4 linked regions of the Homo sapiens genome follow. The protein of the gene in region 3 interacts with the protein of the main gene of each other region in a biochemical or structural test. Each region holds a gene or a part of one and is shown on either strand. Other genes may lie near its edges. The genes, in order: PSG9, PTPRT, DSCAM and PSG7.

Region 1 (3,567 bases), on a different chromosome or scaffold from region 3:
CAAATTCCATCCTACTTTGCCCCCCTATATGTGATTTCTCTGCAGCTTCCATTTCTAAGGATGTTCTAGAGATGAGTAATAATGGGACTTCCCATTGTCCTGAGACCCTGAAGATACTTAGCAGCCTGGCCTGGGACTGGATGTTTCAGCAGAAATAACACAGAGGAGACCAGAGTCAAGCCTGGAGGTCAGTTCAGTCATCAGGCAGTGGAGGCTCAAGGTGGGGCAGTTTTTTGCAGGTGTTTCATGATGACTTACTTGAACCAGTGACCTCTAAACATAGAGCAGAGTGCAAGGAATGATCTAGAAAGAGTGAAGGCGACAGGCAAGAGCTGGTGGCTTTGGAGCAGAACCATGTTCTCTGTCCTGGGTTCTTTAAGTTTCCTCTCCTTCTGCAGAGGGCAGAGGAGGACCATGTGGATCTTTCCAGAAATACATGTGGACATTTGCAAATGCAGAACTGACTGGTGGAAAGTGTGGGAATGAACTGCTGGAAATCTGGTCCTCATGGACCATGTGTGTTTGATGGATATGAGACAAACTTGGAGAGAAGTTTTGCAAATATTTTCTTTCATTGGACATTCTACTCTCTGATCCCCTGGGTTCGACTACTCTAGGGACCTCATGTAAGTGGATTCCAGAGTGAATATGAGAAGAGACTGCTGGTTGCCAGGAGCTGGGAGTGGGGAGAATCAGAAATTGTTCATGGGTGTGCAGTTTCAGTTATGCAAGGTGGGGAGGTTCTAGAGATCTGCTGTAGAGCTTGATGCCTATAGTTCACACAGATTGAGTATTTCTTATGCATAAGTCTTAGGACAAAAAGTGTTTTGGATTTCTGACATTTTTTTATTCTGAAATATTTGTCATATACTTACTGGTTTAGCATCCCAAATCTGAAAGATTCAAAATCTAAAATGCTTCAGTGAGCATTTCTTTTCAGCATCAGATTAGTAGGCAAAAGTGGGAGGTGATAAGCCAAAGATATTCTTGCCCTTTTTTTTTCTCTCACCACTTTTCTAGCTTGATGATTAGTTTTTGGTCAATTCCATACTGGCCATGCTGCACTCATATATTTTTTAAAGCTTTGGGATGTGAGAAAGGCTGATTGCTATTTTCTTTGTCATCAGAACTTTCCACCTTTTCTGGTTGCATCTTTTTCTCAGTGTTTGTGTTGTGGCAGTCATTAATAAGATCCTGTCAGGTCAGATTTAGGACAGAGTTTTCTAATTCTGCAAAAAATGTTACTGGGATTCTGGTAGGGGTTGCATTGAATCTGCAACTCAATTGGGTAGTATTGTCTTTCTAACAATATTGATTCTTCCAATCCATGAAAATGAAATGTCTTTCCATATATTGATATCATCTTTAATTTCTTTCAGCAATGTTTTGTAGTTTTCAGGGTATAATCATTTGACCTTTTTGGTTAAACTTATTCCAAAATATTTTATTCCTTTTGATGTTAATGTGAATTGAAATCCTTTCCTTAACTTCCTTTCAGATTGTTCATTGTTAGTGTATAGTCTAAAGAATGATCTAGAAAGAGTGAAGGGACAGGCAAAAGCTGGTGGTTTTGGAGCAGAAACATATTCCCTATCCAGGGTTTTTTATTTTCCCTCTCCCTTTGCAGAGGGCAGGTGGCTGTTCCCTGACAGCTAGATAGACTTCACTGGAAAACATAGTGCCAGTGCTCCAGGGACCCACTTACCAGGGACTATGATCCTCTTGATTATGAGATTTGTTCCACCAGTGGCTGAGTTATGGATGAAACAGACATAGACCCTCTATATGTTTTAGTGATTTGGGGGATAAAGAACACTTGTGCTGAGTGCTGGAACTTCCCATCAATCAGCCAAGAATGCTCTGCCAGTGGGTGAGAGTCTGTGAGGCAGGAGAGATTGGGGAATTCCCCTGTATGGTAATAGATGTATGAGGAAGAAATGGTGGGTGCATCCAGGCCATGTGGAGCAAAGAGAATAATGTCACAAGCGATATTGTCAGAGGGAAGGGAAAATCCTGGTCTGTGGAAGGGCCACAGTGACCCTGTGAGCCAAGTCGCAACACTGAAGTCCCAGCCAAATCCCTGCTGTGTTCACTGATCTGGAGCCTGAGACATTCACCTGTTTCTCCCATCACAAGCTGTGGACCCAGAGTCTCCCATGACACAGCAGCCTCTTTTCTCCCATTGTTGATCAAGCCTAGGCCTACTCTGGTTTGCTTGGGGCAGAAAGTCATGGCCAGCTTTGATGTCTAGGGGTAAAGGTCTCTGTACTTGGACCTGAGAGGGACTGAGAGGCCTGGCCTCTGGCCATGTGTATTTGGGATGGCAGCCTGGCTCACAGAGGAACAGAAGATACTCACGGAGGAGATTCAGGGTGACTGGGTCACTGCGACTGGCACTCACTGGGTTCCGTATTTCACATTCATAGGGTCCTGCAATATACTTTGTGACACCAAATAGATAGAGGGTCCTGTTGGTTTTGGACAGCTGCAACCTGTGAGTCACAGGGAGGCTCTGACCATTCATCCACCATAGGTAGCTTGCGTCCAGAGTCTCAGGATCACAGATTAAGCGCACAGCCTCCATGGCCTCCCTGGGGTTTAAGTTGCTGCTGGAGATGTAGGGCTTGGGAGTCTCCACTGTGCAGAAAACAGAGAGAAGATTGCCCTGTGTGGCACCTTTGATTCCTCCAAAGGCATTTTTCAGTCAGAGTTGGCATTTCCCACCTCTCAGCCCAACCCAGTCCTTAAAAGCCCATGGCAGGTGTGTGTGTTACAAGACAGATGCATGGCAATCTGAGAGCTCAGAGATTGTGAGGCTGCCTGCTTTATGTGGGAGAAGCACAGACTTTCTTAAGTGTGAATTGAGCAGCAGCATTGGGTCATGGAAAGACACAGGACCAGCAGTCACAGCCCCTGATGCCTCTTTGAGTCCCTCCGTCTCCAACTGCCTGACTGGCCCAACTTGTGGTCCTCACTTGGAGCATGCAGTGCTGGAATCCTCTTAGTTTCAGTCTTACTTTGCCCCCTGAGGTATGTTTTCTCTGCAGCTTCCCTTGCCAAGGACATCCTAGAGATGGGTGATGGAACTTCCCATTGTCCTTAAACCCTTTGGGTATTGGAAAGCCTGGTCTGGGACTGGGTACTTCAGCAGAAATAACACAGGGGAGACCAGAGTCAAGCCGGGAGGTCAGTTAAGACATCAGGCAGTGGAGCCACAAGGTGGGGCAGTTTGCAGTTTTCCCAGGTGTCTCATAGTGACTGACTTGAGCCAGTGACCTCTAACGATAGAGCAGAGTCCAAGGAATGACCTACAAAGAGTGAAGGGGCCAGGCAGTAGCTGATAGCTTTCGACCAAGACCATGTTCCCTGTTCTGGGTCCATGATGCTCCCTTCCCCCTGTAGAGGGCAGGTGAGGACCATGTGGATCTTTCTAGAAATACATGTGGATGTTTGCAAATGCAGAACTGACTGGTGGAAAGGGTGAACATGAACAGATGATGGAAGTCTGGCCCTCAAGGACCATATGCGTTTGGTGGATATTAGACCAATATTTGGGAAGAAGTCTTG
Region 2 (3,567 bases), on a different chromosome or scaffold from region 3:
CACCTTACGCTTCTGGTCTATTCTTTCCAGGCTCTTTGTATGAGAAAAGGAGCCAAGAGCCCACCTTGTGTCTAGGTTTGGACCAGAGCCTGCAGGGGAACAAAGGTCCTTGGGACTAGTAGATCAGAAGCAGGGGGGGCTGGCTGGTGGGGTCAGGGCCCTGAGGTCCAGCCACCTCCACCTCAGGAAGAATATTTGCCCTAGAATGCCAGCTAGGAGCTTTCTGCCCGGGCTCGGCTTACATCCATCAGTGCTGCGTTGATGTAATTGCTGGATTCTCCGTCCACTGAGATAAGGAAGGGCAGGCAGCGGTCCAGAGGCAGCACGTCCATACTTCGATTCTTATCATGGTTCCGGGGCAGGAGCCCAATGCTGCAGTCCTCGGGCCGCACACGGGGTGTCACAATGTTGAGGGTCTGTGGGGCACAAAGGTGAATAGATAGGCCCTGCTCATTTGGCTGCCCCTGAGCAAAAGAGACAGTAATGTTCCAACTCAGCCTAACTCGCCTATTTCCACCCTCTAAGCGCAGCCCCACTCTCCCTTTCCCGGGACCCATTTCTCTTCCACGGTGATGTTCTGTCCTCTCCTGCTCCCTGCTATAGGGTGTGTGAGCTGTGTGACACCTTCAAAACGCCAAGGCTGCAGAAGCAGCGCATCCACACACAGGCTCAGACACAGCCTCATAGTACCTGCCAACCAGATGAACTAAGTCGTTCAGCTCAGCCAGTGCTGCTTTAAAGGGTGGGCCAGCCAGGAGGGCATACAGAGGGGTGGGGGTAGGGAATCCCTACTGAGGGCTAAACATCACTTGCGTTGTCATGGAATGGGGGAAATGATTTACCAGCCCTCTTCTCAGAGAGAAAGCTGTCTGAGTATGGAAGGATGCCTAGATGACCTGCTCAGGATAGATGAGAGACCTCCGAGGGGCAAACCCTAACAGGTCTGGGAAATTGCTGTGTTTGGACTTTGCCGAGTACATCTTGCAAGTTTGAGGCCAGAGCTGAACTGCTCTAGCCAATGGACTAGATGTTACGTGCAATGACCAGTGTTCTGTACCCTCCATCCTTCCCTCATTCAGCTCTCTGTCTCTACTTCAGATCAATAATGGCTATTTGTTTTAGGGATTGCTAAGGTATTGGCCTGCCTGGGATATCTGCCCGTGGAACAATGGGCCTGGCATTTGCCCACTGACTTGAAGCAAGACCTGGAGCTTCCTTGCTTTCTCATACCTGGTTCTCAGCTCCTGTTGCCCAGGTGTAATTCTGACACTGGTCTTGGGATAAAGGGCTGGACTCTGGCTTTATCTTACTTAGTGATTCATGTCCAGGCTCCCTAGACCAATCAATGTTGCCACAGCTCTGACCGCATGGGCTTCCAGGTGTGGATCTGGTATACCTGAGCTATGTTCTAGGACAGTACTTCTCAAAGTTTAACATGCATACAAATCACTCAGAGATCTTGTTAACTTGCAGGCTCTCATTCACTATGTCTGGGCCAGGTCCGAGATTCTGCATTTATAACAAGTTCCCAGGTGAAGCCAATGCTGCTGGTCTCCAGACTGCAGGTTTTAAAATTTTATTTATTTTATTTTTTATGTTTTTGAGATGGAGTCTCACTCTGTTGCCCAGGCTGGAGTGCAGTGGCACAATCTCGGCTCACTGCAACCTCCGCCTCCCAGGTTCAAGCAAGTCTCCTGCCTCAGCCTCCTGAGTAGCTGGGATTACAGGTGCATGCCACCATGCCTGGCTCACTTGTTTTGTATTTTTAGTAGAGACAGGGTTTCACCATGTTGGTCAGGCTGCAGACCACACTTTTAGCAGTAAGAGTCTACTGAAAAATTACTGAGAGGACCTGAGTCCCTCCAGGGATGAAGGAGCATGAAATTCACACCTGTTTGTATAAATTTGTCTCCATTCACAACTTGGACTAGAACTGAATAAGACCTCAGTTAAAAAACATATTCACAGTTAAAGACAAGTACCAGCAATCCCTGAGTGAGTGTGTAGTTGCTCATGGCTGTGCATTTTGTGTTCTGGAATAGATTCTGCAGCTTCCTAGAGAAGCAGACACTGAAAGTGCATAGATCAGTTGTCCCAAAGAAAACCCCACAAATGTGCACATAGCCACTGAAGTTGGTTGGGTTACTGTTACGGACTAAATGTTTTCATCCCTCCCAAAATCCATGTCGTAATCTTAGCCCCCAATGTGATGGTATTAGGAGGTTGGGACTTTGGAAGACGTTTCGATCATGAGCATAGAACCCTCATGAACGGGATTAGTGCTCTTATAAGAAGAAACATGTAGGGCCAGGTGTGGTGGCTCCTGCCTGTAATCCCAGCAATTTGGGAGACCAAGGTGGGAGGATTCCTTGAGCCCAGGAGTTGAAGACCATCCTGGGCAACATAGTGAGATCCTATCTCTATAAAAAGTAAAAAAAAGAAGAAATGTGAGAGCTTGCTGCTTCTACTTTCCACCACGTGAATATGCAACGAGAAGACGGCTATCTGCAAGTCAGGAAGTGAGCCCTCCCCAGACACTGGATTTACTGGAAGCTTGATGCTGGGCTTCTCAGCCTCCAGAAATGTAATGAATAAGTGTCTGTCATTTAAACCACCCAATCTATGGAAATTTGTTATAACAACCCAAACTGACTAAGATGGTCACCGAGCCTGGGATTTGCTCATACCTGAAATTCATCTTTGATTTGGCTGGAGTTTGTCTGGGGGTCCAGCCTGCTGATATTGTAGTAGAGAGAACGGAACTCACACACAGGGATGGCAGTGTTGCCACAGAGGCACGCTTCCAGGATGGCATCGTGCACAAACACATATTGCTCCTGCAAAGTCAGAAGAGAGGGAATGGGGTGCCAGGTAAGAACAGTGGCCTGGGAATTAGCTGTCCACATTTAGTGTTGTGGCTATGAAGAATAGACATGATTTATCAATATATTACAGGATCCTTACTTTTTATACTGTAACCCAAAGGGCCAAATTTCCATGTTTCCTAATGATCACCTGAGCTATGGTGGGTCTTGTTTCTGATAGAAGATGTAATAGCATAGTCATGATAAAATGAGAAACTTCTAGACATGCTGTCAGCAGGCGCTCTTGGTGTCCAGCCCATGTCCCCTCAGCTTTCACCTTTACCTGAGGAAGGCTGCTTGCTGCAAACACCTGTGATTGTCTGCTGAAGGCAGAGGGGATACTTGGGCTGTGTGGAAAGGAACCCTCAAGCAATGACAGATGGAGAGTTGAGGATAGAAATCTAAGAAATCTCTCCCTTTAGGTGGAATCACTTGGACACGCATGTGTCTCAGAGTTCGCCAGCAGAATTGGGTTCCAGTTGTCTACAGTGTTTAACAACTTGTTAAAGTAGCCTTTGTTTGTTTCCTTCCCTGCTCTGCCTCACTTTCCCATTCACCAGCCACTGTGTCTTGGGATTACCTTCCAAGCAAATTATTTGCCGGCAAATCTTTGTCTCACGATCTGCTCCCAAAACGTGTCATATCTTCTCCTATCTCAATTCTTTGTACCTGCTGTACTCTCCTCCTGAAACTCCACTCCCTC
Region 3 (3,567 bases):
TGGAGCTGCATTTACATGAACAAAATAAGAAAGTCTCTTTCAATCCTAATCCACAGGGAAAGCCAAAATTCTAAGTCTTTTCCTAAAATTTAGCTAATTTCTTATCTCCCTCCCCTAATACTTGGTAACTGAAAATAGTAAAGGTTAATTTTTAAAAAGCCTTGATAAACTACAATCCTGACCATTGGAGTATAATTTACTTTATATATTAATATTTCATTTAAAAACATTTTACTGATCGATCGATTGATTGATTGAGACAGAGTCTTCCCTGTCACCCAGGATGGAGTGCAGTGGTGCTATCTTGGCTCACTGCAAACTCCGCCTCCTGGGTTCAAGCCATCCTCCCTCCTCAGCCACCTGAGTATCTAGGATTACAGGTGTGTGCCACCATGCCTGGCTAATTTTTGTATTTTTAGTAGAGACCAGGTTTTGCCACGTTGGCCAGGCTGATCTCAAACTCCTGGCCTCAAGTGATCCTCCTGCCTCGGTCTCCCAAAGTGCTGAGGTTAAAATATTTTAAAATGTAAACTTAAATGTTCAGAAGTCATTTTATTTAAGACCCTTCTAAGTTCTGAGTAAAGGCTAAGATTGCGAATGGTGTAAAACTGTTACTGTGTTTTGGAAGTAGTTCACCACAGTCTTGCACTCCTGGCCTCAAGCCATTCTTCTGCCTGAGTCTCCGGAGTAGCTGGAGCTACAGGTGCGTACCACATCACACCTAGGCCTCCCAAGTAGCTGGGATTACAGCAGTGAGCCTCTGCACCTGGCTGCTTAAGCAAAGGTAATTTGGGTTCTCGCACCTTGCAACCAATGGGGTCATAGTCAATACATGGATCTGTGCCAATCTGGGAAATCTAAAAATAGGTAAACTTACATTTCAAACAGTCCTTGTTTGAATTTTTGTCAGACTTTATTTTCAGATATTTGGTGAAGGGTTCTAATGTGAGCCTGACTGGGGGCTGGGGAAGCCTGTACATATGAAGTTAAAATCTGCGGTGTAGTGCACAAAGTCCCCTGAGGGTCCTGTTCAGGCCTTGGTGTTGAACATCATCTATTCACTGATGTCACCAGATCTGCAGCCTGGATTCCTGAACTCTACTCTCCCATATCTAATTTCCTACTGACAGCATCCACTTCTTTGTTTAGTGTGTATTTCAACCTCAACACATCGATAACTAGACTCCTAATCGCCTTCCTCAAACGGCTCCACTGCATCTTCTGCTGACTCAGTAGAAAGCAATGCCATTCTTCCTGATATTCAGGCCAGAAGCCTGACCTGATCCTTGATGTCTTTATTTTCCTCACACCTGTATCCAACCACTAGGAAAACCGACTGAATAGACCTTCGAAATAGATCCGGAGTCTGTCTTCTACCCCCAACCTCCTCTGCTCTCCCCCTGGTCCAAGCCACCATCATCTCTCACCTGGATTCACTTTCCAACAGGTCATTCTACTTGCCCCCTTTCCCCGAATAGACCATTCTCAGCACAGGAATCAGATGCGTCCTTCTTCTTTTTAGAGATGGGGTCTCACTATGTTGCCCAGGCTGGAGTGCAGTGTCTATTCACAGGTGCAAATATAGTGCACCACAACCACAACCTCAAACTACTAGACTGGAAGTATTCTCCTGTCTCAGCCTCTGGAGTATCTGGGACTACGGGCTCGTCCCACCTTGCCTGGCTAAAAGCATCCTTTTAAAACCTTAGTCTGGCCATGTGACTTTTCTGTTTAAAGTCATCCAATAAAGCCCCCATCTCACTCAGCAGAAAACCCCACGTCCTGAAAACCGAAGTCCTGATCTAGTAAGTCCCCCGTGAAAAGGTTCTGCTCCTTCTGACTCAGGGCCTTTTAGTGTTTTCTTGTTCACTTGGCTCCCACCACACCAGCCTCTCTGTTATTCCTCAAGCTTGCCAGGCAAACTCTAGACACCGTGGTTGTATCTCTTCCCTTTACCTAGGATGTCCCTTCCCCAGGTATCCATGAGCTGTCTTGAACCCCTTCACATCTTTGCTCAAAATCTCACTTTTTCCAGGCAGCTTTTCCCGACTATTCTGAAAAATTTGGCAAGCCCCAAATCCCAACAACTGCCATTTCTCTCCAGGCAATAAAATACCACATAAAATAATATTTTCCTTCTTTTGTTTGCAAGTACTTGCAAAGGAGCTGACAAGTTTTATACTATATGATAAGTATTCAGAAGAAAAGAAGCTCCTGAAGAAAAAATTATTCAATAGAATTATTTCCTAAAATCATAAATATATTGTTTATAAGAGACAATAAATTATTCTTTTGGCCATAAGCTAGTTTGAGTTGGTTTCTGTCACTTCAAAAGGATTAAGATGAATACATTCATTTATACTGATCTGGCAAATTTAAAGAATAAATGTTAATGATTCAAAGGGCTTTCGTTTAAATCTATGTCTCCTAAAAATTACATTAAAGTATTATACCTATTTATCCAATGGTCATACTTCTGGAAATTTTTCTCGAAAGAAATAATCTTAAAATCAGACAAAGGCCAATGCATAAAGAAGTTCATTTGATGCCTCATTTGTAATGGTCAAACATTAAAAATAAACTAAAATTTTAGCACTGTATTAGATGTTTTCAAAATGTAGCTCACAGACCTGTAGGGATCCCTGAGACAATTTTAGGTGATCTGTAAGAAGAAAATCGTTTTCATGACAATGCTGAGGTGCTGTTTGCCTTTCTCATGGTGTTGACATTTGCACTGTTGGAGCAAAAGCCATGGTGGGTGAGACTGCTGGGCGTTACCATGAATCCCAGCAGGGACACTAACAGGATGACTATTCATTGTACTGTTTACCGATGCATACTGTGAGTTGGTTTTTTAAAAATGCCAGATTCACTTACAGACACTTGACGAAGCAGGAAACATAACAGTTTTATTACATCTTTACCCTAAAGCTCACGTTATTTTTAATGTTCTATGTCCTGTGTAATAAAATGGGAAGAAGGCACAGTGTTTCCTCCACCTCCTGAGCAGCACGGCTATTTTCAAGCAGAGTATGTCTGTGCTTGCTTGAGTTGCAAATTCGACCAGCTGCTTTTCTTCATGGAATTCCATTTCTTTCTTAAAAGAATGGCTACCTAAAAACGATGGTTATGCGGTCTTTTCTATTTGTCAAACAATTTCTTACAGATAAATGAGCCCATCACTCCTACAATTACAATTGATGGTGTTTATTATAAATAATAAAATTGAATCTTTCAAGAAAGAATAGAATTTTAGAAAACTTGCATCCATCAGCATGAACTTGACAGTTTACTTGAAGACTTTCTGATGAGATCATGGTAATGTTAGTAGTTGTGATATTTTGATATTGTATAACAAATTGTATCAACATTTGGAAGATCTGTGTAACACAGTGAACCAATCATTTCCAAATGATCAACTTTTTATGTTACAAAATCATGTGTGGGTAAAACATTCCTTCCAAGGGTATGATAGACCAATGAATTTTAAGATGACAGAGTACAGAAAATGTGTTGATATGGCATCTGACTATTGCAATGAACCATTAAGATACTGCCATGTTTTAA
Region 4 (4,339 bases), on a different chromosome or scaffold from region 3:
GCACACCTGCTCCTTCCCTGGGCCCAGCTAAAGGCATCTCCCAGGGCAGCTCTGGTGCACGCAACGCCACACTGGGCGCTTTCCCCTCGTGAACTCCCTCCATCCTCATCAACTCTTTCTGTCACTGCTCCCTAAATGCCCACCCCTGCTCCATCTGTCCTGTTCTCTGGGGCTTCGCAGGTGAAGCCTAGAGCTGACACAGATCAGCGGCTGCCTAAGGGCCCACAGCCTCCCCGGGAATCAGCCAGGCACCCTGTGACCTGCCTGCCCGCTGAACCCCTGGTGGCTTAGATCGTGTGTGATGGTCACACACAGGCACCATCTGGGATGTGGCCACCTACCCCCAGCTGTCCCTTGGGAAGACAGTCCTCTCCTGTGTGCTTGCGGGGAAAGGGGGGTGTTATTGCTCTTTGCACACAGAACACAACCCACCCCCACCCACCATCTCAGGCGTGAGCAACGTCCCTGCAGACAGGATCTCTGGCCACTGCCTGTTCCTCCTCTACACACAGCAGCTTGGCCAGGTCAAAACCCTCAGGACAGACCCCTGGGTATGTCGGCACATGGAGGGCTGAGCCCATCATGGCCACGGAGTAAGTCAGGATGAATCTCTCCAGCTCTGAACCCCTGCTCTGTCCCAGGCTCCCCCTCCTGTGTCTCAACGAGCCATGTCCCGCGGGTTTCCTGGGTAACTCTTCACTGCCACCTGCACCACCACAGGGAAGGTGTGGTGACCACAGGACAATCAGCTGGGCACATAAGAGAGGACATCAAAGATGGTCAGGAAGAACACGAGAAATCCTGAGCTCCAGCTCAGCCGCCAGACCCCAGGGAGCCAAAGAGTGACCGAGAACTCTCTCTTTGACTATGGGACTTACAGCCCCCACTGAGCAATCAGCACAGGCCTCTCCTCCCAAGAGGCATGAGAGATTCACCCTGCACACCTCTAGGAAGGACAGTTTCCTCTGGGACACCCAGGTCCTGAACGTCCATCCTTGGAAGCTGCAGCCAAGCTAGATACGATTAGAGAAAGGAAGGGTCCCTCTCACCAGGAAACACACAGTTCACACACAGCACAATGGGGCATCACTGTGACAGGGACCTGGTGCAGCTTCAGCCTCCTGCACTGCAGGGGAGAGCCAGATGGGGATGAAAGAGGCCAAAGGGCGTGAATGTGCACCCCTAACCAGAGCCATGCGGAGAGCAGGAGGCTGAGGCCCAGGACTGCGCTTGCCCAACCTGCAGGGTATGTGTGTGACTCTGTGGGTCTGTGTGTGTCTCTTCTGTGTGTGTGTGTGTGTGTGTATGTGTGTGTGTGTGTGTGTGTGTCTGCACAAAGTGTGTGTTGAGGTTTGGTGAAAGAATCACTGCTGAAAAAGGCAGAGGGCTCCACAATTCCCAGGGACCTGAAACACAGACAAAAGGAAAAACAGAAGGAGGGACAAGGAGGCAGAACTGAGAGAGGAGGGGACAGAGAGGTGTCCTGGGCCTGACCCCACCCATGAGCTTGAGAAGTGCTCCTGCCCCGGGAAGAGGCTCAGTGCAGAAGGAGGAAGGACAGCACAGCTGACAGCCGTGCTCAGGAAGATTCTGGATCCTAGGCTCATCTCCACAGAGGAGAACACGCAGGGAGCAGAGACCATGGGGCCCCTCTCAGCCCCTCCCTGCACACAGCATATAACCTGGAAAGGGCTCCTGCTCACAGGTGAGGAGAGAACTTCCTGGGAGAGGACAGGAAAAGGAAGCAGAGTGACTGGATGGGGTCTCCTAGAGAGGATGGGGTTCTAAAAAATAAAAGAAGCCAGCACTTTGGGAGGCTGAGGTGGGTGGATCAAGAGATCAGGAGTTCAAGATCAGTCTGGCCAACACAATGTAGCCCTGTCTGTACTAAAAATACAAAAAATTAACCAGGTATGGTGGTGTGCTCCTGTAATCCTAGCTACTCAGGAGGCTGAGGCAGGAGAATCACATGAACCCGGGAGGCAGAAGTTGCAGCTAGCCGAGATAGCACCACTGCATGCCAGCCTGGGTGACAGTATGAGACTCCGTCCCAAAAGAAAAAAAGGAAAAAAGAAAAAAAAGGAAAGAAGGCTCTGTTGGAGCCTGGATAGGGGAAAATACACCAGAGAGGGACAGGGGTCAAAATAGGAAAGTCACATTGAACCGGAATTGGTAAGAGGTAGGAAAATCTTAAGTGTTCTGTTTTTCTGATTAATCCTCAGGGGTCACCACATTTTGAAAAATGAAAATAATAACTATATCAGATGACACTTGAAATAAAAATATAAGCAGGGCATGAAACACTGTCCTCAGCAAAAAACCTCAACAATTGGGAGGAAAAAAAACACCCAGGGCATGGAGGCCCCTGAGAACTCTCACATCTACAGGAGTCTGCAGCCTGTTCCAGGCACTGGGGTGCGACCAAGATCACAAAAGTCCCTGTCCTCACGGAGCTCATGCTGTCATGGGGAGGAAGACAGACATGCAAAGAGATCTAGAATGTGAGATCAGGTGTTGACAAGAACCCTGGAGGGAGCAGAGCAGGGAAAGGTCAAAAAGGAAAGACCCAGGTTCTCTGAAGGAGGTGTCAGGAAAGAAGTCTAAGGATGCCCTGATGTGAGCAGAACCTGAGGGCAGTGTGGAGGGGGCCGTGCGGACCCCTGGGGAAGAGGATTCCAAACAGAAAAATGCCAAAGTCAGGAGTGTTGAAGGAATGGGGGTCATGCTGCTGACCTTGACCTAGTAGGACAGTAGGACACACACAGAAACACACATGCCCCTTTTATATGTGTGTGTGTGTGTTTGTGTGTGTGTGTGTGTGTGTGTGTGTGTGTGTGTGTGTGTCTTCAAGGCTGAGGATTGAAGAGACCTTCTCAGGACCCAGGGGCCCATCTTTTCAACCCAACACATAGGTCTCAATATTGACTGATGCTCTCTCCACCTCCTAGCATCACTTTTAAACTTCTGGAACCCGCCCACCACAGCCCAAGTCACGATTGAAGCCCAGCCACCAAAAGTTTCCGAGGGGAAGGATGTTCTTCTACTTGTCCACAATTTGCCCCAGAATCTTACTGGCTACATCTGGTACAAAGGACAAATCAGGGACCTCTACCATTATGTTACATCATATATAGTAGACGGTCAAATAATTAAATATGGGCCTGCATACAGTGGACGAGAAACAGTATATTCCAATGCATCCCTGCTGATCCAGAATGTCACCCAGGAAGACACAGGATCCTACACTTTACACATCATAAAGCGAGGTGATGGGACTGGAGGAGTAACTGGACGTTTCACCTTCACCTTATACCGTGAGTGATTCCACATGGTCCCTGGGTGTTGGGGGGCAGGGGTCATTTCTACTTCACACACACAGAATTGTCAGGCCTGGACTGTGCCTGTGTCCCTCTCTGCATTATGTCCCATGCTGGGGTTTGGGCATTTATTGCAGGAAACACACAGAGGAGACAAATTTCAACAGATCAGAATTCCTTTCTCACATCCAGACCCTGCAGAAACTTGCTGCAGAGGAAGGACAGTCTGATGGGGGGACTCAGCAGGAGGAGATCAGTCTCAGCCAAGCACCTCATGCCCTCTTCATAAATTTGACCCTGAGAAAGACCCTGGAAAACTGAGTAGGGCTTGGCCTGAGGGGCCCCCTGAGACCCTCAGAGAAGCTCAGCCCTAGAAGCCTCAACCCCAGACCCCTGTCCCTAAATCCTTGCTCCAGATAAAGCTGAGGAGCCTGTGCCAGGACTGGGTTATGGTTTCTTGGGCAGGGCTTACTGGGACTAAGAATTTTCCAGCTGTCTGAGGACTGTGTCTCCTGCAGCTGTTCACCAGCCAGGGCTCAGCCCTCAGAGCCTCATCTGGGCAAGGACAGAGCTTTCTTCACCTGACACTCAGAGTGGAGAGGACAGAAAGACAAGCTTTGTAGGCCATCAGCCAACTGCCTTAGGAGGCCTAGGACACTCCATAGAAAGTCTAATATCCCCAGAAGCAGAAACAGAAGAGAGAAGATGTACCAGGTAGCAGCTTGTCCACAGGGATCTGACGTAAAGGTGCTTTCTCATGGAAGCAAATTAATAATAAATGCTGTTTGGTGAACATTTCCACAGTGCTACGCATTAGGTCAGGTGACTGTGAATAATTTAACATTTATTCACAGATAGCATGAAAAGCCACAGTCCATTTGCCATTTAGCTTATTTGATTGAGAGAAAACTGAGTCACAGGAAAGCACAGTCACTGAGCCAGAGTCACACAAACACAAAGGGGAGATCAGGGTCACATGAGGTCTGTCTGCAGCCACAGGCCCATCCTCTCCTCCACCAGAA

The links.
Region 1: the proteins of DSCAM (region 3) and PSG9 interact in a biophysical measurement, tested with the Homo sapiens proteins (one large-scale study listed by IntAct).
Region 2: the proteins of DSCAM (region 3) and PTPRT interact in a biophysical measurement, tested with the Homo sapiens proteins (one large-scale study listed by IntAct).
Region 4: the proteins of DSCAM (region 3) and PSG7 interact in a biophysical measurement, tested with the Homo sapiens proteins (one large-scale study listed by IntAct).

The regions. Positions count from the first base shown.
Region 1 is NC_000019.10:43,259,502-43,263,068, forward strand, and holds part of PSG9 (pregnancy-specific beta-1-glycoprotein 9 isoform 1 precursor), read right to left. Parts: intron 2,638-3,567; coding exon 2,359-2,637; intron 1-2,358. UniProt on the Homo sapiens protein: Binds to the small latent transforming growth factor-beta complex, consisting of the N-terminal TGFB1 latency-associated peptide (LAP) and the mature form of TGFB1, thereby leading to the activation of TGFB1.
Region 2 is NC_000020.11:42,101,882-42,105,448, forward strand, and holds part of PTPRT (receptor-type tyrosine-protein phosphatase T isoform 2 precursor), read right to left. Parts: intron 2,838-3,567; coding exon 2,688-2,837; intron 417-2,687; coding exon 243-416; intron 1-242. UniProt on the Homo sapiens protein: May be involved in both signal transduction and cellular adhesion in the CNS.
Region 3 is NC_000021.9:40,333,128-40,336,694, forward strand, and holds part of DSCAM (cell adhesion molecule DSCAM isoform CHD2-42 precursor), read right to left. Parts: intron 1-3,567. UniProt on the Homo sapiens protein: Cell adhesion molecule that plays a role in neuronal self-avoidance. Promotes repulsion between specific neuronal processes of either the same cell or the same subtype of cells.
Region 4 is NC_000019.10:42,934,379-42,938,717, reverse strand, and holds the start of PSG7 (pregnancy-specific beta-1-glycoprotein 7 isoform 1 precursor), read left to right. Parts: upstream 1-1,510; 5' UTR 1,511-1,641; coding exon 1,642-1,705; intron 1,706-2,948; coding exon 2,949-3,314; intron 3,315-4,339.